7 linked regions of the Homo sapiens genome follow. The protein of the gene in region 6 purifies or fractionates together with the protein of the main gene of each other region. This does not show direct contact. Each region holds a gene or a part of one and is shown on either strand. Other genes may lie near its edges. The genes, in order: DCTPP1, ZNF99, POLE, DICER1, LRPPRC, DUSP26 and PFAS.

What was found.
Region 1: the proteins of DUSP26 (region 6) and DCTPP1 purify together in Homo sapiens (affinity purification with mass spectrometry, with the first as the bait; one large-scale study listed by BioGRID). This does not show direct contact.
Region 2: the proteins of DUSP26 (region 6) and ZNF99 purify together in Homo sapiens (affinity purification with mass spectrometry, with the first as the bait; one large-scale study listed by BioGRID). This does not show direct contact.
Region 3: the proteins of DUSP26 (region 6) and POLE purify together in Homo sapiens (affinity purification with mass spectrometry, with the first as the bait; one large-scale study listed by BioGRID). This does not show direct contact.
Region 4: the proteins of DUSP26 (region 6) and DICER1 purify together in Homo sapiens (affinity purification with mass spectrometry, with the first as the bait; one large-scale study listed by BioGRID). This does not show direct contact.
Region 5: the proteins of DUSP26 (region 6) and LRPPRC purify together in Homo sapiens (affinity purification with mass spectrometry, with the first as the bait; one large-scale study listed by BioGRID). This does not show direct contact.
Region 7: the proteins of DUSP26 (region 6) and PFAS purify together in Homo sapiens (affinity purification with mass spectrometry, with the first as the bait; one large-scale study listed by BioGRID). This does not show direct contact.

What each region holds. Positions count from the first base shown.
Region 1 is NC_000016.10:30,427,231-30,431,169, reverse strand, and holds the start of DCTPP1 (dCTP pyrophosphatase 1), read left to right. Parts: upstream 1-1,139; 5' UTR 1,140-1,189; coding exon 1,190-1,290; exon of another isoform or gene 1,291-1,315; intron 1,316-1,369; exon of another isoform or gene 1,370-1,581; intron 1,582-2,002; coding exon 2,003-2,113; intron 2,114-3,939. UniProt on the Homo sapiens protein: Hydrolyzes deoxynucleoside triphosphates (dNTPs) to the corresponding nucleoside monophosphates. Has a strong preference for dCTP and its analogs including 5-iodo-dCTP and 5-methyl-dCTP for which it may even have a higher efficiency.
Region 2 is NC_000019.10:22,781,352-22,785,569, forward strand, and holds the start of ZNF99 (zinc finger protein 99), read right to left. Parts: upstream 2,801-4,218; 5' UTR 2,666-2,800; coding exon 2,663-2,665; intron 1-2,662. UniProt on the Homo sapiens protein: May be involved in transcriptional regulation.
Region 3 is NC_000012.12:132,625,803-132,628,342, reverse strand, and holds part of POLE (DNA polymerase epsilon catalytic subunit A), read left to right. Parts: intron 1-2,025; coding exon 2,026-2,226; intron 2,227-2,540. UniProt on the Homo sapiens protein: Catalytic component of the DNA polymerase epsilon complex. Participates in chromosomal DNA replication.
Region 4 is NC_000014.9:95,151,030-95,154,529, reverse strand, and holds part of DICER1 (endoribonuclease Dicer), read left to right. Parts: intron 1-3,500. UniProt on the Homo sapiens protein: Double-stranded RNA (dsRNA) endoribonuclease playing a central role in short dsRNA-mediated post-transcriptional gene silencing.
Region 5 is NC_000002.12:43,989,490-43,992,989, reverse strand, and holds part of LRPPRC (leucine-rich PPR motif-containing protein, mitochondrial precursor), read left to right. Parts: intron 1-3,500. UniProt on the Homo sapiens protein: May play a role in RNA metabolism in both nuclei and mitochondria. In the nucleus binds to HNRPA1-associated poly(A) mRNAs and is part of nmRNP complexes at late stages of mRNA maturation which are possibly associated with nuclear mRNA export.
Region 6 is NC_000008.11:33,593,927-33,597,023, forward strand, and holds part of DUSP26 (dual specificity protein phosphatase 26), read right to left. Parts: intron 1-3,097. UniProt on the Homo sapiens protein: Inactivates MAPK1 and MAPK3 which leads to dephosphorylation of heat shock factor protein 4 and a reduction in its DNA-binding activity. Inhibits MAP kinase p38 by dephosphorylating it and inhibits p38-mediated apoptosis in anaplastic thyroid cancer cells.
Region 7 is NC_000017.11:8,252,289-8,255,788, forward strand, and holds part of PFAS (phosphoribosylformylglycinamidine synthase), read left to right. Parts: intron 1-1,570; 5' UTR 1,571-1,649; coding exon 1,650-1,791; intron 1,792-1,877; coding exon 1,878-2,013; intron 2,014-2,738; coding exon 2,739-2,844; intron 2,845-3,213; coding exon 3,214-3,403; intron 3,404-3,500. UniProt on the Homo sapiens protein: Phosphoribosylformylglycinamidine synthase involved in the purines biosynthetic pathway. Catalyzes the ATP-dependent conversion of formylglycinamide ribonucleotide (FGAR) and glutamine to yield formylglycinamidine ribonucleotide (FGAM) and glutamate.

The sequences.
Region 1 (3,939 bases), on a different chromosome or scaffold from region 6:
GTATCCAATCTTAACTGCTGGATAATATCATTTGTATAAATATACTTCCATGTAGCCATTCTTCCGTTGATAGTCATTTTATTTTCAATTTTTTTCACTCTTAGAAACAAAACTGTAATGAACTTCTTGCATGTGTCTCTCTGCACATATTCATTAATTTCTCTAGGGCATATACCTAGAATTGCAATTGTCACAGCCTTGGGATTTTAATTTCCAAAATCTGACTCTGCCTCTTCCTGCGCTTTCTTACGCTTTCACTTCCAGCAAGCTGGAAGCCTCTTTAAACGTGGAAATCAGAGATAGTAGCCCTAATAAGGGTACAATAATAAATCATTCTTTGCAAGACTACACCTGTTCTAGGGTTTCATAAAGATCTCTGCTCCTCCCATGGCCAATAACTCAGTGGTTCTGATTTGAAAGCAGCAACCCTGTGACTCGCCACCTCGCGTATTCCCTGGTGTGAGTGGAGCCTGGAGTTCTCGTGTGTGGGGTGGAGGAGCCGTGCTGGGGACCCATGAGGCTGGAGAGGCCGGCACAGGCCAGACCATAAGGGGCCACGTGTTTCAGGGCAATGTACGTTGCGCTGGGGCCTACTGCCTCCCTTAGGACAGGGATGGGGCGACCTCCATCGTTTCAACCACAGGACACAGCGATGGCGGGGAGCTGAAGTCCTACTGCCGTCTGATCTTACTCCGCTCTTCCCCTTCAATCCCATCCAAATAGTGTGGGGGTTGGCCTCGAGGTTTCTCAACGTCCTTAAGCCCTGATTTAATACCTATGCATAGGGCCTTTCATTTATAGGGTTTTCCACCTGACGGGCCCTCTTCCGCTGCCGTTTCGCTTTGGCGCCCTCTGGCGCCCATAAACGAAGTGACGCGCCTGCGCTTCCCCCACCCTCTGCCCTTCGTCTCTTCCCCAGGTCGAATTGGTACCTCTACCTTTAGACACAGGGCCTAGCGGAAGAATTCCAGGGCCTAAGACTAGAAACGCGCGCTTGAAGCTCCCTCAGATTGGTCCAGTGAGGGAAGGGGAGGGCTGTAGCAAACTCCACAAAAGTCATTGGTCTCTTTCCTCAGGCTCCGCCCCGTGAGGCAATAGAGAACTCCCGTAATTGGTCGGAGCTCTGGAGGCGGGGCTTCGAGCGTGGCTCGTGGGTTTTCCGTGAAGTCGCGGTGCAGCGGTGGGCGGCATGTCTGTGGCCGGTGGGGAGATTCGTGGGGACACGGGGGGAGAGGACACTGCTGCTCCCGGCCGGTTCAGCTTCAGCCCGGAGCCCACGCTCGAGGACATGTAAGCAGGCCTGGCCCAGCTCGGGGTGGGGAAGTCGCCCCTTTCTCCCGCGTTTTGGGGAGGGTTCCTCCACGTGGTCGGGAAGCGGGCTGGCAGCGGGGCTCGGGTCCTGGCTCTGTGGGCTGTCCCTGGGTGAGCCTTCTTACCTCATCTGCAAAATGGGCGCAGCGGTGCACACCTGAGGCAAGGGAAATTGGGTGGTGCCTCCGAGTGGTAACTAGGAACGCCCTTCAGCCTAGCCCTGGGAAGATACCGGCACCAGATACCGCCTCTGCTCTCCAGGCGCCGGGGGTACGAGAGGGGCAAACGAAGTGCTGAGAGGTGGGAGACGTTATTTTTTGCTGGAGGAGGTCAAGAAAGGCTTCTTAGAGGAAGGGTCTGTGGAACTACCTTCTGTAAGAGAAATTGCATTTTGATGTGCGGCGATTCCAGGTGGAGGAAACTGCAGAAGTAGCAGCAGGAGATGGAATAATGAAGAGGGTTTTGTTAGTTTTGGCGAGATGTTAAGGGCAGTTCAGGGGCACGCCCATTTTATAGATGAGGGAACCAAGTTCCGGAAAGAGGAAATGACCTGCACAATACCATCCAATGAATTAGTTGCAGAATCTCCTGGTCCCAGGCCCCATTACATACTACGGGGGTAGCTGCCTCTGGCCCCTGCATCACCCTCTAACCCGGAGACTTGGACTTACACTCCTTTGTCCTATTTCAGCCGCCGCCTCCATGCTGAGTTTGCTGCGGAACGAGACTGGGAACAGTTCCATCAGCCTCGGAATCTCCTCCTGGCCTTGGTTGGGGAAGTGGGGGAGCTGGCAGAACTCTTGTGAGTAGATGGAAAGCTTCCTGGTAGAGTCTGAGTTGTGGGGGAGGGGAGGGGAGCATTTATTTGGTCTTCAAACATTCATGGGTTCAGTTTCCCCTCCTGATTGCTAGGCTCTTTGCTGTTGTTGGGATGCAGAGAGGACTCACGGGTCCCTGCCCTCTAGGGGCACTCAGCCTCCTGGAAGAGAGAGGTGTGAGGTGTGAAAGCATCAGGACAGGTCCCGTCTAGGAAGAAGCAGTGGCAACAACCCTTTTCCCTTCTTTTGTTTTTTGTTTTTTTGGCTTTTTTTTGAGACGGGGTCTCGCTCTGTCGCCCAGGCTGGAGTGCAGTGGCTCAATTTCGGCTCACTGCAACATCCGCCTCCTGGGTTTAAGCAGTTCTGTCTCAGCCCCCCGAGTAGCTGGGACTACAGGTGCCCCCCACCACGCCTGGCTAATTTTTGTATTTTTAGTGGAGACGGGGTTTCACCATATTGGTCAGGCTAGTCTCAAATTCCTGACCTCAGGTGATCCACCCGCCTTGGCCTCCCAAAGTGCTGGGATTACAGGGGTGAGCCACCACGCCTGGCCCAACAACCCTTTTCCTCTGCCTCTGGGGCTGAAAGGAAGGTATTCTGTAGAGGACCTGCCTGTGGCATTCCAGACATGGGAACTACATTTGCAGGGGCAGTGAGGCAAGAAAGGGCAAGTTCAATTCAGGGAGAATCTGACGCTCCTTCATTGTAAGCATCTCAGGAAAAATCAGGGATTTGGGATCTGTTTTCTCTGATGTGTCCCAAGTGCCCAGCGCATAGTAGGCGCTCAATAGGCACACGTTGGATGAGTGATAGGGCTGTGGAGGAGAGGGGTGGGAGTTGAACCCACAAAGATATGATTAGGGCTAGAGTATGATGGAGAGTTTGGACAGAAGACCTGACCAGATATGAGTGTTGGAAAGGTCACTGTGTCTACAGGGTGGATTGGATGGATCACTGAGAGAATGGGGCAGGGGACACCAGAGAGTTGGCTGGTGTAGACCAGGCAAGAGGCGATGAGCCCTAGACCAGGACAGTCATTTTTTTAAGAGAAAAGGTCTCACTCTGTTGCTGAGGCTGGAGTGTACTGGTGTGATCATAGCTCACTGAAGCCTCAGGAGCTCAAACGATCCTCCCACCTCAGCCTTCGGAGTAGCTGGGTCTACAGGCGTGCGCCACCACCAAGCCTGGCTAATTTATTTTTACTTTTTGTAGAGATGGGATCTCTCGCTGTTGTTGCCCAGGCTGGTCTCAAACTCCTGGTCTCAAGTGATTCACTTGCCTCACCATCCCGCAGCACTGGGGTTACAGGTTGAACCACTGCACATGGCCTCATGACAGATTTATGAACATCACCTATGTGCTAGGTCTTCTAGAATTGAGATATGGCCTGGAACAAGGCAGAAAGGTTTCCACCTTCACAGTGGAAGGAGATTGACAGTAAATCAGTAATCTCATATTAGAAGATCTGGAATTATGACAAGTTCTATGAGGAAAAGAACACAAGGTGATGACCCAGTCTGGCCAACATGGTGAAACCCTGTCTCTACTAAAAATACAAAAATTAGCCAGGCATGGTGGCGGGCGCCTGTAATCCCAGCTACTCAGGAGGCTGAGGCACAAGAATCGCTTGAACCCAGGAGGCAGAGACTGCAGTTAGCCAAGATCACACCATGGCACTCCAGCCTGGGCGACAGAGCAAGACTCTGCCTTAAAAAAAAAAAACAAAAAAGGGGCTGGGCGGGGTGGCTCACACCTGTAATCCCAGCACTTTGGGAGGCTGAGACGGGCAGATCATGAGGTTAGGAGATCA
Region 2 (4,218 bases), on a different chromosome or scaffold from region 6:
AGTGCCCCAGGTAAGAACTTTTCAAGTTCTTACACCATCTCATTGGGGTCACTTTTTTTTTTTTTTTTTTTTTTTGTCGTTTGGGACACTATTTTTGATTTCACAGATTCTCACTATTTTTCTTTCACTATTTTTTCATTATATTTCACTATTGTTCTGCTCCCTTAAAGAATGCAGGGGGCAGAAATTATTTCTGTGTTTTCCCCGCAATACCAGCATCTGATTGGCTGACCAGCAATGTGTCTTCAAAAAATGGAAGCTGGGTTGGGTGAAGACAATCTTAATGTCTCAAGGGTTAGCTTTTCAAAGGAAGAGTATACCAGGAGAGACCTCTCAACCCCAGGGCATCTGCCTTCTTCGTTGAAAGGCTACACTCCACACCTCAGGTTGTCCTACTGGAGAAAATGACCAGGAGCTGATATTCACTAGACACTCTAGCAGACATAGCCATGGGGAATATTTTAGCTAATTCCCAGACAGTACTGAAACCCAGGACCAGGGAAAAAACTGAAGAATGGCTGAAAACACATCATAAAGTTTCCAAAGGAAAACCTTTACCTTTACCCCAAAACATTCTGCTAAAATCTGTGGAGCAAGGAGGAAAAAAAAAAAGCGGCACAAAGATTTTTTACAACACAGTGTCAGGGGATTATTTTTTGCTTTCTTCTCTTAGGAAATATTCACAAACAGAAAACAAATATTATGAAAAGTACCATCCAATGCTTTGTTAAAAAATAAAATACAGTATCAAAATGTACACTAAGGACAAATAGTAATGTGAATCAGAGAGGGAAAATTGACATTATGAACTGGAAGTTTAGTATTTTATTGCAAGCCAGAGTTAGGCTGCAGGAATTGGGGTTTGGGAGTAGACATAATACTCTGCTTGAGATACCTGTAAAAAATGGAGGGGAAAATCAGTCATCTGAGGAGTGTGAAAATAATTAAAAATAATTAAGTGGCAGGCAAATAGACTGAGGTGGCTCTAGTGCCTGATATCTACTTTTTTTTTTCTTTTTTTTTAAGACAGTTTCGGTCTTGTTGCCCAGAATGGACTGCAATGGCGCGATCTCGGCTCACCGCAACCTCTATCTCCCGGGTTCAAGCAATTCTCCTGCCTCAGCCCCACGAGTAGCTAGGATTACAGGTACAGGCATGTGCCACCACACCTGGCTAATTTTTGTATTTTTAGTAGAGATGGGGTTTCTCCATGTTGGTCAGGCTGGTCTTGAACTCCCGACCTCAGGTGATCCGCCTGCCTCGGCTTCCCAAAGTGCTGGGATTACAGGCATGAACCACCGCACCTGGCCTTTTTTTTTTTTTTTTTTTTTTTAATATGAGAGGGAGTCTCCCTCTCTTGCCCAGGCTGGTGTGCAGTGGCGCAATCTCAGCTCACAGCAACCTCTGCCTCCCGGGTTCAAGCGATTATCTGCCTCAGCCTCCCGAGAAACTGGGATTACAGGCATCTGCCACACTCCCGGCTAATTTTTGTATTTTTATTAGAGACGGAGTTTTACCATGTTAGCCAGGCTGGTCTAGAACTCCTGACTTCGTGATTCACCCGCCTCGGCCTCCCAAAGTGCTGGGATTACAGGTGTAAGCCACCGAGCCAGGCCTGATAATCTACTTTTTAAAAAATCTAATTCGGCCGGACGCGGTGGCTCATGTCTGTGATCCCAGCACTCTGGGAGGCGGAGGAGGGCAGATCACCTGACGTCGGGAGTTCGAGACCAGCCTGACCAAAACGGAGAAACCTCGTCTCTACTAAAAACACAAAAATTAGCCGGGTGTGGTGGCGGATGCCTGTAATCCCAGCTACTCGGGAGGCTGAGGCAGGAGAATCGCTTGAACCTGGGAGGCGGAAGTTGCGTTGAGCCGAGATCGCGCCACTGCACTCCAGCCTGGGCAACAAGAACAAAACTCCGTTTCAAAAAAAGAAAGAAAAAAATATTAATAATTCAAGTGCTTTTTTTTTTGTAAATTACTACATTGGGGGAAACAAAATTCAGGCTTAACCAACTATAAACTACAATTAACCTCTGATTATATAAACGGGAAATTTCCATCTTGATTGTACAAATTAAGAATCTACGTAACTGTACATAACCCATTACTGAATTTGGTTTTCTTCATTATGCACCTTATAAAACTCTTTCCGTCAAATCCCTTCCATAGACCATAAACTACAAACCACAGCTGGGTGCTCTGCCATTTTTGAATCACTCTTTGATTAAATCCTTTATTACTTTAGTGATGACTGCCATCAATTTTTAATAGGAGAAAAGAGGGACTGGAAACCTCACTGGACCAAAGCTCTTCCCATTCATGAACCCGCACCCGGAGTCAGGATTCTCCCCTGACGCCCCTCCCGTGGTCCCTGCACAATCTGTGAGAGAGGAGGCGCTGCGGGTGAAGAGCGGCCCAGAGAGGGCTCCAGGCCAGGGCATAGTCACAGTGCAGGAAGGAGGCAGGTCGCCCGGGGTCCCGCAGTCAGCGCAGCCGCCATCTTATGGCTGAAGGAGACTGAGGCCGAGCTGGGCAAGAGCTCGGGGCGCAGACTGTGGAGCTCACTGAGGGGAGGCCTGAGTCCCGCCACAGCCACTTTCCACCGGTTCCAGTCAGCCCCTTCCCCTTCTCAGGATATCGGACCCGGCACTCTCACCATTTCTAAGCTTCCAGGGGGTCCTGGCGTCCTAGCTGTGGATCTCCAAATACCTACAGGTCACAGGGCCACAGAGGCTAAGGACACAGAGCAGTAAAAACGAGATCCGGAGCTCCAGCTGGAACCAGAAACAACGGCCCCGCCACATCCCACAAGCCGCCCTTTCCGCTCCAGCTGAGTGCCTGATTGGACGGTTCCCAGCCCAGAGTCCCTGATTGGATAATGTTTAAATCCCCGCCTCCTCAGGCCCTGAGTGACAGAAGATGTGATCTGATGCTGAGCTGAATGAAGAGTGACGGGCCGGGCGCGGTGGCTCACGCGTGTAATCCCAGCACTTTGGGTGGCCGAGGCGGGTGAATCACCAGAGGTCAGGAGTTGGAGACCAGCCTGGCCAACATGGCAAAACCCGGTCTCTACTAAAAATAAAAATTAGGCTGGTGTGGTGGCGGGCGCCTGTAATCCCAGCTACTCCGGAGGCTGAGGCACGAGAATTGCTTAAACTCAGGAGGCGGAGGTTGCAGTGAGCCGAGATCGCGCCAGTGCACTCCAGCCTGGATGACAGAGCGAGATTCTGTCACGAAAAAAAGAAAAGAAAAGAAAAAGAAAGGAAAGGATGACAGTCTAGGCTGCAGCCTTTTCAGGCAGGGCTTCCTTCCTGAACTGAGCCAGGCCAACCCCAGAGGGTATTTGCATTTAACCTTTTGTATAAGGTCACATTCTTTTATAAATAATATATTATATGGTTATTCACAAATGAAAAGAATATAACAATTATCTAAAATTTTCAGAGTTTATGACCTTCCTGGCTTCTGGTTTTTTCATCAGATTGCCTGAGGTTTTAAAAAGAAGGCAATCCTCTGAAATAAAATTGTATTTTAAATTTTCTAGTAGCCAAACTTTAAAAATTAAAAAAAAAAAAAACAGGTGGAATTTATTGTAGCAATTTAATTAACCCAATATATCCAAAATATCATCTTAATACGTAAGCAAAATGTAAATTATAAATGAAGTGTAGATATTTTTTGGAACTTCATCTTTGAAACTAACTCTGTATTTTACCTTTCCAGCACATCACAGTTCAGACCAGCCACATTCCAGGCACTCAGTCGCCACACATGGCCAGTAGCTGCCACATTGAAGTGCAGCTCTGACCTTAGGAGAGGGAAGGGCCTGAACAAACCTTTTCTGCCAAAGATGGAAAAAGAGCCTTTCCCTACCAACATCTCTCTTCAGCTCTGAGGGAGGAACAGATAGTAGCCATAAATAAAGCACAGGACAGCAGGAAAAAACAACCACAGGTAGACCACTGCTGGCCACCTGTTGCCTACCTTTATTCCAGAGATCAGAAGGTGAACTAAGGATGGTAAGGCCACAGGAGAAGAAATCTCTGTGTCTTCAAATCTGTGCACAGTCTTGACCTCCAATGTTTAGATATGAAGAAAATAGATTAAAGGAAAACTTACTTTTCTATTTGTCCTTGGCCCTAATGGTCAGGCTGTGGTTATCTGTTTTCTCCTGTGGTATGGGGGACTGTGTGAGTATAGGCACCAATTACA
Region 3 (2,540 bases), on a different chromosome or scaffold from region 6:
TTTAAGATGGAGTCTCGCACTCTCGCCCAGGCTGGAGTGCAGTGGCGCGATCTTGGCTCACTGCAAGCTCCCTCCCAGGTTCACGCCATTCTCCTGCCTCAGCCTCCCGAGTAGCTGGGACTACAGGCAAGCGCCACCACACCTGGCTAATTTTCGTATTTTTAGTAGAGACAGGGTTTCACCATGTTAGCCAGGATGGTCTCGATCTCCTGACCTTGTGATCTGCCCACCTCGGCCTCCCAAAGTGCTGGGATTACAGGCGTGAGCCACCGCACCTGGCCAAAAAGTAGTTTCTTGAGATGAAAGTGAACATTGTGGAAATGACAAAGGATTGAGAATATTCCATAAACTTAGTTGCCAAAGCAGCAGCAGAATTTGAGAGGACCGACTCCAATTTTGAAAGAAGTTCTACTGTGGGTGAAATGTTATCAAACAGCATCACATGCTACAGAGTCTTTCATGGAAGGAAGAGTCAGTTGATGCAGCAAACTTCATTGTTGTCTTGTTTTAAGAAATTGCCACAGCCACCCCAACTCTCAGCAATACCACCCTGATCAGTCAGCAGCCGTTTACATTGAGGCAAGACCCTCCACCAGCAAAACGATTGCGACTCACTGAAGGCTCAGATGATCGTTAATATTTCTGAGCAATAAAACATTTTAAAATTAAGGTACATACATTGTTTTTTAGACATAATGCTGTTATGCACTTAATAGACTACAGTATAGGGTAAACCTAAGTTTTGTCTGGGTAGAGTGACTCACACCTGTAATCCCAGCACTTTGGGAGGTCAGGGTGGGTTGACTGTTTGAGCCCAGCAGTTCAAGACCAGCCTGGGCAACATGGCAAAACCCATCTTTACAACGATTACAAACATTACCTGGGCATGGTGGCGCATGCCTGTCGTCCCAGCTACTGGGAAGGCTGAGGTAGAAGGATCAATTGAGCCCCAAGAGGTCAATGCTGCAGTGAGCCATGATTGTGCCACTGCAGTCCATTCTGGGTGACAGAGTGAAATCCTGTCCCAAAATAAAAAAAATCACATAGCTTTTTTTTTTTTTGAGATGGAGTCTCACTCTGTCACTCAGGCTGGAGTGCAGTGGTGCAATCTTGGCTAACTGCAACCTCCACCTCCTGGGTTCAAGCGATTCCCTGCTTCAGCCTCCCAGGTAGCTGGGATCACAGGTGCACCCGCCACCATGCCCAGCCAATTTTTGTATTTTTAATAGAAATGGGGTTTCACTGTGTTGGCCAGGATGGTCTTGAACTCCTGACCTCAGGCCATCCACCTGCCTTGGCCTACCAAAGTGCTGGGATTACAGGCGTGAGCCACCACAAATCACGTAACTTTTATATGTACTGAGAAAACAAGCGTGAGCCAAAAATCATGTAACTTTTATATGCACTGAGAAACCAAATAATTTGTGTGATTTGCTTTATTGTGATGTTAGTCCATTGAGGTGGTTTGAAACCGAACTTGCCATATCTCCAAGATACGCTTGTATTCAAGAACCATTTGTTGAAAAGACTATTCTTTTTCTATCGAATCATCTTTGTACCTTTTTCCATAACTTAGTAACCTTATCTATGTGAGTCTCTTTCTGGATTATGTATTCTTTTTTTCGATCTTGCATTCAATTTGCTAATATCTCGTTGCGCATTTTTGTGTCTGTGCTCAGGCTGTTATTGGTCTGTAGTTTCTTAGTACGGTCTTTGGTTCTAGTATCAGGGGATGCTGGCCTCATAGAATGGGTTGAGTGCTCTCTCTCTTCAGTGTTTTGAAAGATACTGTGTAGAATCAGCAGCATTTCTTCCTTAAATGTTTAGTAAATTCCCCAGGGAAGCCTGTCCTCACCGATGGAAAACTGCTAATGTAGAGAAGTCAGCTGAGGCGTCTAAAGGGACTAAGGAAGGGAGGAAAGGACACCAGGAAACTGTAGCCTAAGGTCCAGAGGGTTCTGGTCCAGACAGAGCAGCAGGGAGGCCCCGGGAGCTCCTTCCCGATGTGGGCTGTGGTCTCTGCAGGTGCTGTCCCTGGACACCAACATCACAAACCAGGTGAATAAGCTGAACCGAGACCTGCTTCGCCTGGTGGATGTCGGCGAGTTCTCCGAGGAGGCCCAGTTCCGAGACCCCTGCCGCTCCTACGTGCTTCCTGAGGTCATCTGCCGCAGCTGTAACTTCTGCCGCGACCTGGACCTGTGTAAAGACTCTTCCTTCTCAGAGGTGCGGCTGAGCTCCAGCGGGCCCTTCACTGTGGAGCAGAACATCCGAGGGCACTGCGGTGTCTTGAGGGCTTCTGCAGCTCCAGCTCTGTGGGTCACACCTGCTGCCCCTCTGACTCACATGGATTGGCAACAGGCCCCTTCCCAGGCCTCCCCACACCATGTTCGGAATGTTGTCCTAGGAAGGGCTCAAGTGCAGGTGGGAGGCCAGAGTGCGTGCAGCTGCACTCAGGAGACTCGCCCGTCACCAGGCGCTTCTCACAGCCCCTTCCTCTCCTGAGATCCTGCCCATGGCACTGTGGTCTGGAGGCTGGG
Region 4 (3,500 bases), on a different chromosome or scaffold from region 6:
TGGAAAAGCTGAATGGTATTTCATTGTATGAATATACTGCATTTTGTTTATCCATTCATCTGTCCATGGCCACTTGGGTAGCTTCTATCTTTTGGCTACTGTGAATAATGGTGCTGTGAACGTAGGTATACAAATAATTCATTGGAGTCCATGCTTTCCCTTCTTTTAGACATATACCTCAAAGTGGTCACATTGTTTCTTGATCTTCAAAACACTAGACTAGACTCAGAATTTATTGCAGTATGAGTTTTCTCAGGGTTCCTCCAAGCAGTGATAATTTCCTACAAACAACTCCTCTGTCAGTAAAATCTGTAATCTCTCTGAAGCCCAGGGTCGACTCCTTTTTACGATCTTGGTTCCAATCATAGTGTCTGGCAGGTATTCAAAAAACTGATCAAACATGGAGTGATGTGCTTTATTGAATGCCAGAGGAAGATATTGGTGAGGTCTTTAATTTGTATAAAGAGAAAGTTGGAGCCAAGTGACTTATTTTGTTTACCTTTTGCTGTGCTTTTTGGACATTCAAGAGCTTAGTTCATCCTGAAAGCCCAGTGTATGTATTATACTCGCTCTTATTCACAGGTTTCTTTGCAATTTACGACTTGCCAAATGACTAGTCTTCTGAGGCAGCATTATTTTCTTGGTATTCCACCTCCTTAGCCTGTGGGGCTTGGACCTTTTGATTTTTTGATGGCTAGTTTTCACTTCTTCCAAATTTCTGCTAAGACTCTAGTATTAGTACATTTATTTAATAGTTTATGATGTCTATTTTGAGAAAGGATTTGAAATGGTCTTATAATAGGAAAGTATTAGAGTACTATGAAAATGGTAAAGGTTGGTAGTATAGAATGTGGAGGCAGAGAATTAGATGAATGATTGGGGCAAGGAAAGGTGAGTGCTGCATGTAACTCACGTTGATTAATGAAAGGAAGCATACCAATTTGAAGCAGATTTTTCTCTTGTATGAAGAATAATCAATCTTTTGGATTATTACATTAAATAACATTAGCAATATATGGAGAAAATGTTTTACATTTTACAAACGATAGAGAAACATTTTTTCACATGCCATTTTAGAGAAACTGGATAAAAGCCTCAGGCATAATAGAAAAGCTTTAGTAATACAGGTGTTCACTGTTCCAGTGGTTTGATTCATTAATTTCTTTTGGGTGGTGTCCCTCGAATATCAGTTGTCTCATTCAGGCTGTTGACAGATGCTAAATAACAATCCATTCAGGAATAAGCTCTGTGGACAACATGGGCAGTGAGGATTTTCCAAATAGGAATTCTCACCCAGTCTTTTTTTTTTTTTTGAGACGGAGTCTCACTACGTTGCCCAGGCTGGAGTGCAGTGGTGCGATCTCAGCTCACGGCAAGCTCCGCCTCCTGGGCTCATGCCATTCTCCTGCCTCAGCCTCCCGAGTAGCTGGGACTACAGGTGCCCGCCACCACACCCTGCTAATTTTTTGTATTTTTAGTAGAGATGAGGTTTCACCGTGTTTAGCCAGGATGGTCTTGATCTCCTGACCTCGTGATCCTCCCGTCTCGGCCTCCCAAAGTGCTGGGATTACAGGTGTGAGCCACCGTGCCCAGCCCTCTCACCCAGTCTTTAGGAACGTGTGTTGGTCTAAAAAGTAAGACTGGTTGTATCGTGGTGTATACTTGATGAATTAATACAGAAAGAAAAAGATTATTTTTGAGATGTAGCTGGTGAAATTGACATTTTCAGTTATGTAATAAAGCCTTTGTTAAAATAATTCTGAGTGCAAAATGGCTTCCTCATCTAAAATTGTCAATGAATTGTTGGTACTCCTTTAACATGCAGTTACCTCAATATGCATTTTAAATAAGTGACTAAGAAGATGCTACAAAACATTCTCTGAGGATGTCAGTAAGACTGTTACTAGAAGTAAGACATGACAGGCTTAAGTTTGGCCTTAGAGTTTTTTCTTTTTGTTTTTTAGGCTTATAACAGCATTACATGTTCTTGGTTGTGTTAAGGTTTATGGAATAGTAAGGATTAGATTCTTCATGCATGTTCATTACCAGACATGGTGCTTGACATATAGGAGACACTCCGATTTGTTGAGTGAGTAAGTTAATTTATAATACTTTTTGAAGTATTTAGAAGCTAACACAGTTTTGTGGGGAAGAATATTGCTTGCATATTAAGGCTTTTAAAAAGATTATTACTATTCTGCTTTTGGACAAATCATGCTACTTGGTCCTTTTTGCTTTGTGAGGTACGTATGATTATGTGCACAGAAACATTGCAGACTGAGGGAAGTGTTAAGAATCGTGGGAGAAAATCGCCGTCAAAATTGGAGTTTAACTGTATTGCAGACTTTCTCCTTGTTGGCACAGACTAACTCTGTTGTGCTTGTTCGTTCTTTGACAGCTCAATGTATGCCATAAAGCAGGGGTTTTAACAACACATTTGAACAATTCTTGAGGATTAGAAAATGAGGTCTGTTAACCAGTTCAGAATTTTAAGAAAACAAACCGGTTGTACTTAGAGAACTTGAATAATGAGAGAAGACTCTTAGTTTAAAAACTGATCTTTGACATGATGTAGGAAGGTTCTTTGATTAAGAAGTTAAATGACCCTGTTTGAAGGGAAAAAGAAAGGTAGTAGTCGTATTTAGTCGTATTTAGTCCTCTGAGATGTTTCGAGATTGCAGGATTTCTGTCTTTCCTCTTTTGGTAACATCCTGGGAGGTGAGATTAACATGATGAACTCACAGCCTGTCCGCCTCTTATGCATCCTGCTGCCCAGCCATCACTGTCAGTTGCTCTGATTCATGGTATTTTAAGTTCTTTCCACTTTGCAGAGTTAAATATTAATGTTTTATCATAGCTTTGTAGGGATGCTTAAGAGCAAGTGTTTGGCGTCAGAGAGACCAGGGTTCAAATCCTGATTCTTCGACTTTATAGCCGATGAGCACTGGGCATATGGCAACGTCTCTTGAGTCTCAGCTTCCTTGTCTATAAACTGTCGTAGTGGTGTTTGCCTCTTGAGGTTTTGAGAAAAAAAAGGAGTTTCTTAAACTCTCATGGTACATAACTAGCATTTGATAAAATTAATGTAATATTTTTCTTTTAAATACGTGTATTAGAGAAAATTTTAACATGCAATAGTCTTAATGTGATTAGATTATATTGTGAGCCCCCAAATTATCAATATTGAAATGTATGGTCTAGTAATATAATGGAGGATGAAGGAAAAGAGGGCTTGAGAACAATATTTTACAGACAAGTTTTCGAGGAGGATTATCTATACTGGTTCAGCTATCTTAGTTGGTCTCTGTAGTAGTGATACCAAATGTAACAGTGCCTTAAACGTCTCTTAACTTTCCCTAAATAACACATTCTTCATCTGCTATGCATGAATTAACACATCATCCTTGAAATCATACTTCAATTCAGTGTATAAAGCCAAGTGTTTTGTAAAATAAACCTCAAGTTAGGTTTTATGTTTCCTTATGATTAGATTCAGGTTT
Region 5 (3,500 bases), on a different chromosome or scaffold from region 6:
TTTTACTCGTGGTCCTTCTGTGTTTTCTCAACATTTTCATTCTCTTTTGTGACCTTTTCCATTTTTCAGGGCATTACTTACCTATCTGATGATGTTTCTCCCAGATATGGACCATCTACTACACATCCACCTGCTTGAACTATAGGTACTTCAGAGCCAACACAGCTCAAATTGGACCCCTCCTTCTTCTTTCATCTGTTCCTCTTGTGTTCCCTATTTTCGTGAATGTTGCTGTTTCTACCTGCCTTCCAGAAAGATCCTGGATATCTACATATTTGTTTTCCCATTCATCTCTCACTCCCTTCACCCCCCATTTATTGATTGCACAAATGATTAAGCCCTGTTAGATCTGCTTCATTTGGAATGCATCCCTTTTCCTCCAGCCCCTTCATCATTCCCTAGTCTCCCTGATAATTTGATCATGTCATTTTCCTGCTTACACTTAAGCATTGTGGTGGCTCCCATTGGGTCCAGAAGGAGATCCAGACTCTTTAGCACAGGTGCTTTATGAGCTGGAGTTGCCTCTGGAGCGTCAACTCTTCTGAGTTCCCTCCCATGGCATCCTGCGTTCTAGCCGTACCAGACTACTACTTTGAAGTGCTCTACAGCAGGGCTTCTCAAACTCTAGTGAGCATGATTGCCTGGGGCTCTCGTTAAACTGCAGATTCTGATTTTGTAGGTCTAGTGCTTGTCTGTGGATCTGTAAGGCTTTGATGGGCCATGTTGTATATTTCCTTGCCTTTGAGTGTAATGTTGACTCTTGGAATGTGTCTCCCCTTCCCCCTTAGTCAGGTGTCCCCCATCTCTGTTGAACCTTAACTTGACTGCCTCTCCCATTTGACTGGCTCCTTTCTTGTGCCTCCTCTTAGACCGTGTATCACTAAAGCACCCATTAACACTATGACGTGCACTCACCAACACTCTGGAGCTGGCTGTAAGTTGCTTGAAGGCAGATACTGTGTCTTACTCCTTTTGCTTTCCCTGGTGTTTAACTTTGTGGCATATAGTAGGTGTCAAATGTTTGTTGAGTGAATCAATGAAAATCTTAAGACATTGAAGAAGGAATATGGTAAACTGGAGGAGATTGAAGGGATGCTTAACCCACCCATGCAGTGCAGTGTGTCTACACAAATTCACCCTGAGCTTGATTTCCAGGAATGTCCTATTTGAGGACAAATGAGTATTAGTGAGTGAAATTATTAGACATTAGTAATCTGTTTTCAAAATTGTAGCACCAAGAAGTATATCCTTTTACTTTGTAATATGTGGTCTTGCTCTTCATTTTCCCATCTCAGTACATCTATTTTTCAAATAGATGCTTTCTGGAAAACCAGCTTTTACTCTGTTCTCTTTGAGGTGATAAATACTCTTGCTTTGTCACATACATTTTCCTTGCATTTCTGGATCAGAGCTGCTTTGTGTGTGTATTCTTTGTGTGATGGTTTTTAGCATAATACTTGTATACTTCAGAGGAAAGATAAGCTTTGAGCTCAATCTGTTTGGAAGTAGATCTAGACTAATGATTGGCCTAAAGGTGAAAATTACATATTGTTCTTTGATGGGATGGTGTGATTTTTATTTCTAAAGTTGGAAGAAAACTTTTAGAAAACTCTCATTTTAGAAAAATCTTCTGCAAATATTAAGAATCTGATGGGTCCGGCTGGGTACTATTGTTCACACCCATAATCCCAGCACTTTGGGAGGCCGAGGCGGGCAGATCACTTGAGGTCAGGAGTTTGAGACCAGCCTGGCCAACATGGTGAAATTCTGTCTCTTACTAAAAATACAAAAACAAAATTAGCAATGGTGGCGGGCGCCTGTAGTCCCAGCTACTCGGGAGGCTGAGGTGGGAGAATGGCATGAACCTGGGAGGCGGAGCTTGTAGTGAGCAGAGATCAGGCCACTGCACTCCAGCCTCAGTGACAGAGTGAGACCCCATCTCAAAAAAAAAAAAAAATAAAAGTATCTATACATAAGTTAGCCAGGCGTGGTGGCCCATGCCTGTAATCCCAGCTACTTGGGAGGCTGAGGCAGGAGAATTGCTTGAACCCGGGAGGTGGAGGTTGCAGTGAGCCGAGATCACGCCATTGCACTCCAGCCTGGGCTACGAAGCGAGACTCCATCTCAATTAAAAAAAAAAAAAAAAAGAACCTGATGGGTCCTTTGGGGTTCTGAAATCTGTAACATTCGGCCTCTGCTCTGTGAGTGTAGATTTATCAATCACAGGGCTAGACAGGCACATGTACAACTATTAGACGTGCTGTCCATAAGAGAAGAATATAATATTGTGGTATTTCAGAGAGAGGAGCAGTGCCATTTGTTTTATGGCAGGGGGACATTGAGTTTTAGAGGACACATGGTAGTGGATATTCAGAATGTTCCAAAAATAGAGAAGAGCGTGAAGAGACTTGGAGGCCGTTTATCCCGTGTAGCTGTGTGGGATGTGGTGGAAGTTGATTTCTTGAGGCTACCAAGATTGCTTAGAAGGTAGGTTAGTTGATGATTGGAAGCCGTTGGAGGATTTTAAGTACAGATTTTGACAAAGTTTATGTAGATTATAGGAACGTGGGGATGGAACAACACTGGTATTGCAAATTAGCAGTAATAGGCCTTCAACGAGGTAGTAAAGAACTGACGAAAAGATCCGTTTCTTGAGAGAAAGAGAACAGAAGATTGGTGAGAGTGTTAGCAGAATTAAGAAAAGTAGATTTGGGGATTAGGGTAAACAATGGTACCTTTAGAATAGATGCTGATTACTTTCTTTTTTTTTTGAGATGGAGTCTCGCTCTGCCACCCAGGCTGGAGTGTAACGGGGCCATCTCGGCTCACTGCAACCTCTGCCTCCCAGGTTCAAGCGATTCTCCCACCTCAGCCTCCCAAGTAGCTGGGACGACAGGCGCATGCCACCATGCCTGGCTAATTTTTGTATTTTTAGTAGAGATGGGGTTTTGCCATTGCCATGTTGGCCAGGCTGGTCTCGAAATCCTGACCTCAGGTGATCCACCACCTCAGCCTCCCAAAGTGCTGGGATTAAAGGCATGAGCCACCGCACCTGGCCTGATGTTTATTATTTTCAAAGTGTGTTTGTAAACATAACATCATACAAACATTTCAACTTCCGTGGGTTATTACAAATTAGGAAACAGGGTTAGAAGTATAATTTATTCAAGACCTCAAGTTGAGATTCAACTCCAGATACCGTGATTCCCGTTTCTGAAATGTTTTACATATGTTGCAACATATGTTACAAGTGTTTTACATATGTTACACATTTGATCTTGTCATTTTCCTGTTTACAGTTAACTGCCATGGTAGTTATCATTGGGTGCAGAATGAGGTCCAGACTGTTGTGTTTTAGATGGTGAAGGGATTACTTATGGACAAAAACATTTTTTAAAAGGCAATATATGATATAAACTTGGGATTTAAAGACTTTCACAGGTAAGTAAACATAGAAGATCTCAGAATGTATCTGGAAGGGATCTTCATAGATTCTGAAG
Region 6 (3,097 bases):
CTCCTGCCTCAGCCTCCCGGGTAGCTGGGATTACAGGCACATGCCACTATACCCGGATAATTTTTGTATCTTTAGTAGAGATGGGGTTTTATCATGTTGGCCAGGCTGGTCTTGAACTCCTGACCTCAAGTTATCCTCCCGCCTCGGCCTTCCAAAGTGCTGGGATGACAGACGTGAGCTACCATGCCTGGCCTCCTGGATCCTACTATTGGCCTAAGGACACTACTTTACTTACTAGTGATCCAGAAGGGAGGAACCAAGATGGGCAATGACTTGGAGTCTTGTCCTGTGAGCCATGGTTGAAGGTATAGGGGATGTTTTGCCTGGAGAAGAGAAGACTAAGGGGATGGGGTAAAAATAGCCATAATAAAACTGAAAGTGTGCGGCCGGGCGCGGTGGCTCACGCCTGTAATCCCAGCACTTTGGGAGGCCGAGGCGGGCGGATCACGAGGTCAGGAGATCAAGACCATCATAGCTAACATGGTGAAACCCCATCTCTACTAAAAATAGAAAAAATTAGCTGGGTGTGGTGGTAGGCGCCTGTAGTCCCAGCTACTCAGGAGGCTGAGGCAGGAGAATGGCCTGAACCTGGGAGGCGGAGCTTGCAGTGAGCCGAGATCGCACCACTGCACTCCAGCCTGGGTGACAGAGCAAGACTCCATCTCAAAAAAAACAAAACAAAACAAAACAAAACTGAAAGTGTGTTTTCTGGAATTGAGATTGTCTTGGATCTGTAGGGTTCTCAAGGGTACAATGAGGATCAAGGAATTAAAGCCCCAGGGAAGCAGATTTCATTTTTTTTTTTTTTGGGAGGTGGGACAGAGTCTTGCTATGTCTCCCAGGCTGAAGTGCAATGGTGCAATCTCAGCTCACTGCAACCTCTGCCTCCCAGGTTCAAGCGAATCTCCTGCCTCAGCCTCCTGAGTAGCTGGGATTACAGGTGCCTGCCACCATGCCCGGCTAATTTTTGTATTTTTAGTAGAGATGGGATTTCATCGTGTTGGCCAAGCTGGTCTCGAACTCCTGACCTTGTGATCCACCTATCTAGGCCTCCCAAAGTGCTGGGATTATAGGCGTGAGCCACTGTGCCTGGCCAGCTGATTTCAATTTCATACAAGGAAGTACATTCTAATGGTGGAGTCTAGCTGAGGAAAGGGTGGAGAACCTCGAGAGAGAGTGGTTTTCCTGTCCCTGGGGTATTCAGGCAGAAAGAGGAGATGGCCATGTAGCCATGGATGCTGCAGAGGGGAAATGAATGTCAGGCAGATTGTTCTGCTCATTTCATCGGTCCTGCTCACTCTGAGATAGTATGGTTCTGACATCCACTTCCACACCTAACTCCCCTATGTCTCTACTCTTGTTGACACCCAGAACCGTCTTGTGTTTTTGCCAGATATTCCATGGCTCACATTTACTGTGACTGTGTTTTTTTTTGTTGTTGTTGTTGTTGTTTGTTTTTTTTTTTGAGATGGTGTCTTGCTCTGTCACCTAGGCTGGAGTGCTAGAGTGCAGTGGCGCGATCTCGGCTCACTGCCACCTCTGCCTCCCGGGTTCAAGCAATTCTCTGCCTCAGCCTCCCGAGTAGCTGGGATTACAGGTGCCCACCACCATGCCAGGCTAATATTTGTATTTTTAGTAGAGACGGGGTTTCACTATCTTGGCCAGGCTGGTCTTGAACTCCTGACCTCGTGATCCATCCGCCTAAGTATCCCAAAGTGCTGGGATTACAGATGTGAGCCACCATGCCCGGCCACATTTACCCTGTTTTATGACGTCACCTTCAGGTGTTCATCCGGCCCAGACCCCTCAGCTTGGTGGCAGACACCCCTGGGCACCACAGTCATATCTCAGGGCAAACTGAGTTGCCCTGTCCAGTGCAAACTCCTTAAGCAGAAAGAGCACTGAACTTGAGCCTCCAAGCCCGGGCTCTGCTACTTACAACCCGTGTGACCTTGGCCAGGCACAACTTCTCTGAGCTTCAGTCTCCTCATCTGTAACCCAGGGAGAGTGATACCTATCTCACAGGGCTGTTGTGAAGATTAAGAGAGATAATGTGTGTGAAAAAAATCCTTGTAGGCCAGGCACGGTGGCTCATGCTTGTAATCCCAGCACTTTGGGAGGCTGAAGCAGGTGGATCACTTGAGGCCAGGAGTTCAAAATCAGCCTGGCCAACATGGCTAGACGCCGTCTCTACTAAAAATACAAAAATCAGCTGTGTGTGGTGATGGGCGTCTGTAAGCCCAGCTACTTGGGAGGCAGAGGCAGGAGAATTGCTTGAACCCGGGAGGCGGAGTTTGCTGTGAGCTGAGATTGGGCTACTGCACTCCAGCCTGGGCAACAGTGAGACCCTGTCTCAAAAACAACAACAATGCTGGGCACGGTGGCTCACACCTATAATCCTAGCACTTTGAGAGGCCGAGACAGGTGGACTGCCTGAGCTCAGGAGCTCAAGACCAGCCTGGGCAACACGGTGAAACCCCGTCTCTACTAAAATACAAAAAAATAATTAGCCGGGCAAGGCGGTGTGTGCCTGTAGTCCCAGCTACTCTGGAGGCTGAGGCAGGAGAATCGCTTGAACCCGGGAGGTGGAGGTTGCAGAGAACCAAGATCGCGCCACTGCACTCCAGCCTGGGTGACAGAGTGATACTGTCTCCAAAAAAAAATAAAAGAAAGAAACCAAAACCAAAACAAACCAAAGAAGCAAAAGAAATCCTTGTATAACTTTGAGGGAGAGAAGTGGGGATGGCTCTTCCTTTGATGTTTTTCTCTCCATAGCCTTCAAATTGCAGAATCTCTGTAGGCACTGCCGCTTTGCTTGGTCTCAAGAGAAACCACTGCAGCTTCCTACCTACTGCTCCTGGCTTCCAGTGGCTGCCTTTTCCCAGAGACATTGCACAATAGATGGAAGGTCAGAGAAGTCATCTATTGTGCCTGGTATGTAGCACTGGCATGTAATAATAAATATGTGATACATGAATGATATTATTACTGGAACAGAGTCTTTCTGTCCAGACTTGGGTATTTTTATTTTATTTATTTTATTTTAAAATAATAAGTAGAGATGGGGTCTGGTTTTGTTGCTCAGGCTGGTCTAGAA
Region 7 (3,500 bases), on a different chromosome or scaffold from region 6:
CTCAAAAAAAAAGAAAAAGAAAATAAATAAATAAATAAATAATTTATGACATGATATCATCAAGCAATAAATTCTTAAACAAAAGCTTTGTGATCAGAGATCCTTTTTTGTTTGTTTGTTTTTGTTTGTTTTGAGACAGAGTTTCACTCTTGTTGCCCAGGCTGGAGTGCAATGGCTCGATCTCAGCTCACTGCAACTTCCGCCTCCCGGGTTCGAGTGATTCTCCTGCCTCAGCCTCTCAATTAGCTGTGATTACAGGCACGCATCACCACGCCCGGCTAATTTTGTATTTTTTTTAGTAGAGATGAGGTTTCACCATGTTGGTCAGGCTGGTCTGGAACTCCTGATCTCAAGTTCTCACTGTGTTGCCCAGGCTGGAGTGCAGCGGCTTGATCACTGCTCACTGCAGCCTCCGCCTCCCCAGGCTCAAGTGATCTTCCCACCTCAGCCTCCCTAGTTGCTGGGACTACAGGCACATGCCAGCACACCCAGCAAATTTTTGTATCTTTTTTGAGAGAGATGGGGTTTTTGCCATGTTGCCCAGGTTGGTCTCGAACGCCTGTGCTCAATCCTCCCACCTCAGCCTCCAAAGGGCTAAGATTACAGGTGTTAGCCACTATGCCCCGCCCAATCTGGCCTCTTCTTATAAGGGCAGATTATAAGAGGTTTGGTGAGATTAGTAGCTCATTCTTGAGAGTTCCACTTTCATGACCTAATTACGTCCCAGAGGCCCCACCTCCAAATACCATAACATTGAGGATTAGGGTTTCAATATATGAATTGGGAGGGGGAGATACACAAACATTCAATCCATGGCTGATACCATTTCTCTCAGGAAATTTTTCCTGACACCTGAAGTGCAGGATTGGTGTCCACAGTCCCCTGACCTTCACCACACGGGACTGGAAATGTCTGGGTACTTGGCCTTTCTCCCCCAATAAAATATAAACCCTGTGAGAGCAGACAGAGTTTCTGTCTTGATTCACAGCGGTGTTTCTAAGACCTTGACTGGGGCCCAGCAAAGTGCATGTACTCCAGGAACACGTGTCAGGTGTGTGCCTGTACACCTCCCTACCACATTAATAAAGACCACATTTTGCAAGATTCCTTAAAATCTCCAAGGTTACATTTTTCAGGTTACCTTGTTTCTCTAAATGTCCATATTACTTTCCCCTACCCTATCCATAACGCCGCAATTTTCCTTGAAATCTGAAATCAGTTCAACAGATAGGCCATAGTTAATGTTATTTTTATTTTATTTATTTATTGAGACGGAGTTTTGCTCTTGTTGCCCAGGCTGGAGTGCAATGGCGCGATCTCGGCTCACTGCAACCTCTGCCTCCCGGGTTCAAGCAGTTCTCCTGCCTCAGCCTCCCTAGTAACTGTGATTACAGGCGCCCGCCACCACACCCAGCTAATTTTATATTTTTAGTAGAGACAGGGTTTCACTATGTTGGCCGGGCTGATCTCCAACTCCTGACCTCAGGCAATCCACCTGCCTCAGTCTCCCAAAGTGCTGGGGTTACAGATGTGAGCCACCACGCCCGGCTTAGTTAATGTTATTTTTTAGGAACCTAATTCATCTCTCCAGCAAAGGACACATCTCTCCAGCAAAGGACACCTCTCTCCAGCAAAGGACACCTGCAGAGATGTCCCCAGTCCTTCACTTCTATGTTCGTCCCTCTGGCCATGAGGGGGCAGCCCCTGGACACACTCGGAGGAAACTGCAAGGGAAACTGCCAGAGCTGCAGGGCGTCGAGACTGAACTGTGCTACAACGTGAACTGGACAGGTTGGGCCCAGGTATTAGATTCTTGGGGGACATGCCTCGGTGCTGGGGGCAGTGTCTCAAGGTGTCCTTGCCCTGTCTCCCTGCAGCTGAGGCCCTCCCCAGTGCTGAGGAGACAAAGAAGCTGATGTGGCTGTTTGGTTGCCCCTTACTGCTGGATGATGTTGCTCGGGAGTCCTGGCTCCTTCCTGGCTCCAATGACCTGCTGCTGGAGGTCGGGCCCAGGTAAGTATCTCATCCTGCCCACCCCTTTCTTCTGCTTTCCTTTGCTTCCTCTTGTGATCCTTGGGAGATTTGCTTTTCCTTTGCTCTTTGCTACTTCCTGCCTAGGAAACCACACATGTGCTTTCCCCATTTGGGTAGATCCCTCCAAAGACCTAGCCTGCTCCAAAACATGTTCTCAAAGCAAAATAAATTAGATTCCAAGTTAAAATCAAACAGTTTTGGCCAGGCGCGGTGGCTCACGCCTGTAATCCCAGCACTTTGGGAGGCCGAGGTGGGGCAGATCACGAGATCAGGAGATTGAGACCATCCTGGCTAACACGGTGAAGCCTCGTCTCTACTAAAAATACAAAAAATTAGCCGGGTGTGGTGGCGGGCGCCTGTAGTCCCAGCTACTAGGCAGGCTGAGGCAGGAGAATGGTGTGAACCCGGGAGGCAGAGGTTGCAGTGAACCGAGATCACGCCACTGCACTCTAGCCTGGGCAACAGAGCAAGACTCTGCCTCACAGAAAGAAAAAAAAATCAAATAGTTTTGATGCTAGAGGACAGTTTTGGTTTGGTTTGAGTGTACTTTAAAAGCAGGTTTCTTGTTGCCCAGCCTGAGGCTGAAAGCCAATGGTGAGGGGATAGCGGTGGGAGGTTGTCCAGACAGCAGTAGGCAGGATCCACCCTCCCAGCTGAGGCCTGCCGGGGGTTCTCCAGTCCTAACCATCAGGCCCATTGTTCAGGCTGAACTTCTCCACCCCAACATCCACCAACATCGTGTCAGTGTGCCGCGCCACTGGGCTGGGGCCTGTGGATCGTGTGGAGACCACCCGGCGCTACCGGCTCTCGGTGAGGTGATGGGGAATCAGGAGGAGGAGATGAGCCAGAGATACAAGATTAGATCCTAAGCTCTAGAGAGAAGCAGGGACAGGTGCTCCTGGCTTTAGGCCTGCTCTGTATGGTCGTACAAGTTGTTCACTGCCTGAAAGTACCTGGTTGAGGGGTAAATGGGGCAGAAATCCAGCCTATGCTTCCTTTAATTTGTGCATCCTGGCATGGATTCATACCTGGAAAGGGCGTCTTTTTGTAATCTGAGAAAAAGTGCCATATGGTGTGGCAGTGGGCTAGCCTTGCATGACTAAGAGGGTAGGAAGGTGGACCATTTCTCTCCATTCTTAAACTCTTCACCCCTTGCCCTCTGTGTGTCTGCACCCCTAGTTTGCCCACCCCCCGTCAGCTGAGGTGGAAGCCATTGCTCTGGCTACCCTGCACGACCGGATGACAGAGCAGCACTTCCCCCATCCCATCCAGAGTTTCTCCCCTGAGAGCATGCCGGAACCCCTCAATGGCCCTATCAATATACTGGGTGAGGGCCGGCTTGCGCTGGAGAAGGCCAACCAGGAGCTTGGTGAGTAGCTGGGGAGGGAGATGTAGGGTCCAGGATAGGCCAGTAGGGGTGCTGAGATCTGGAATGTGGCTGCCTGAGTTCCATAGTCACCTCTTCC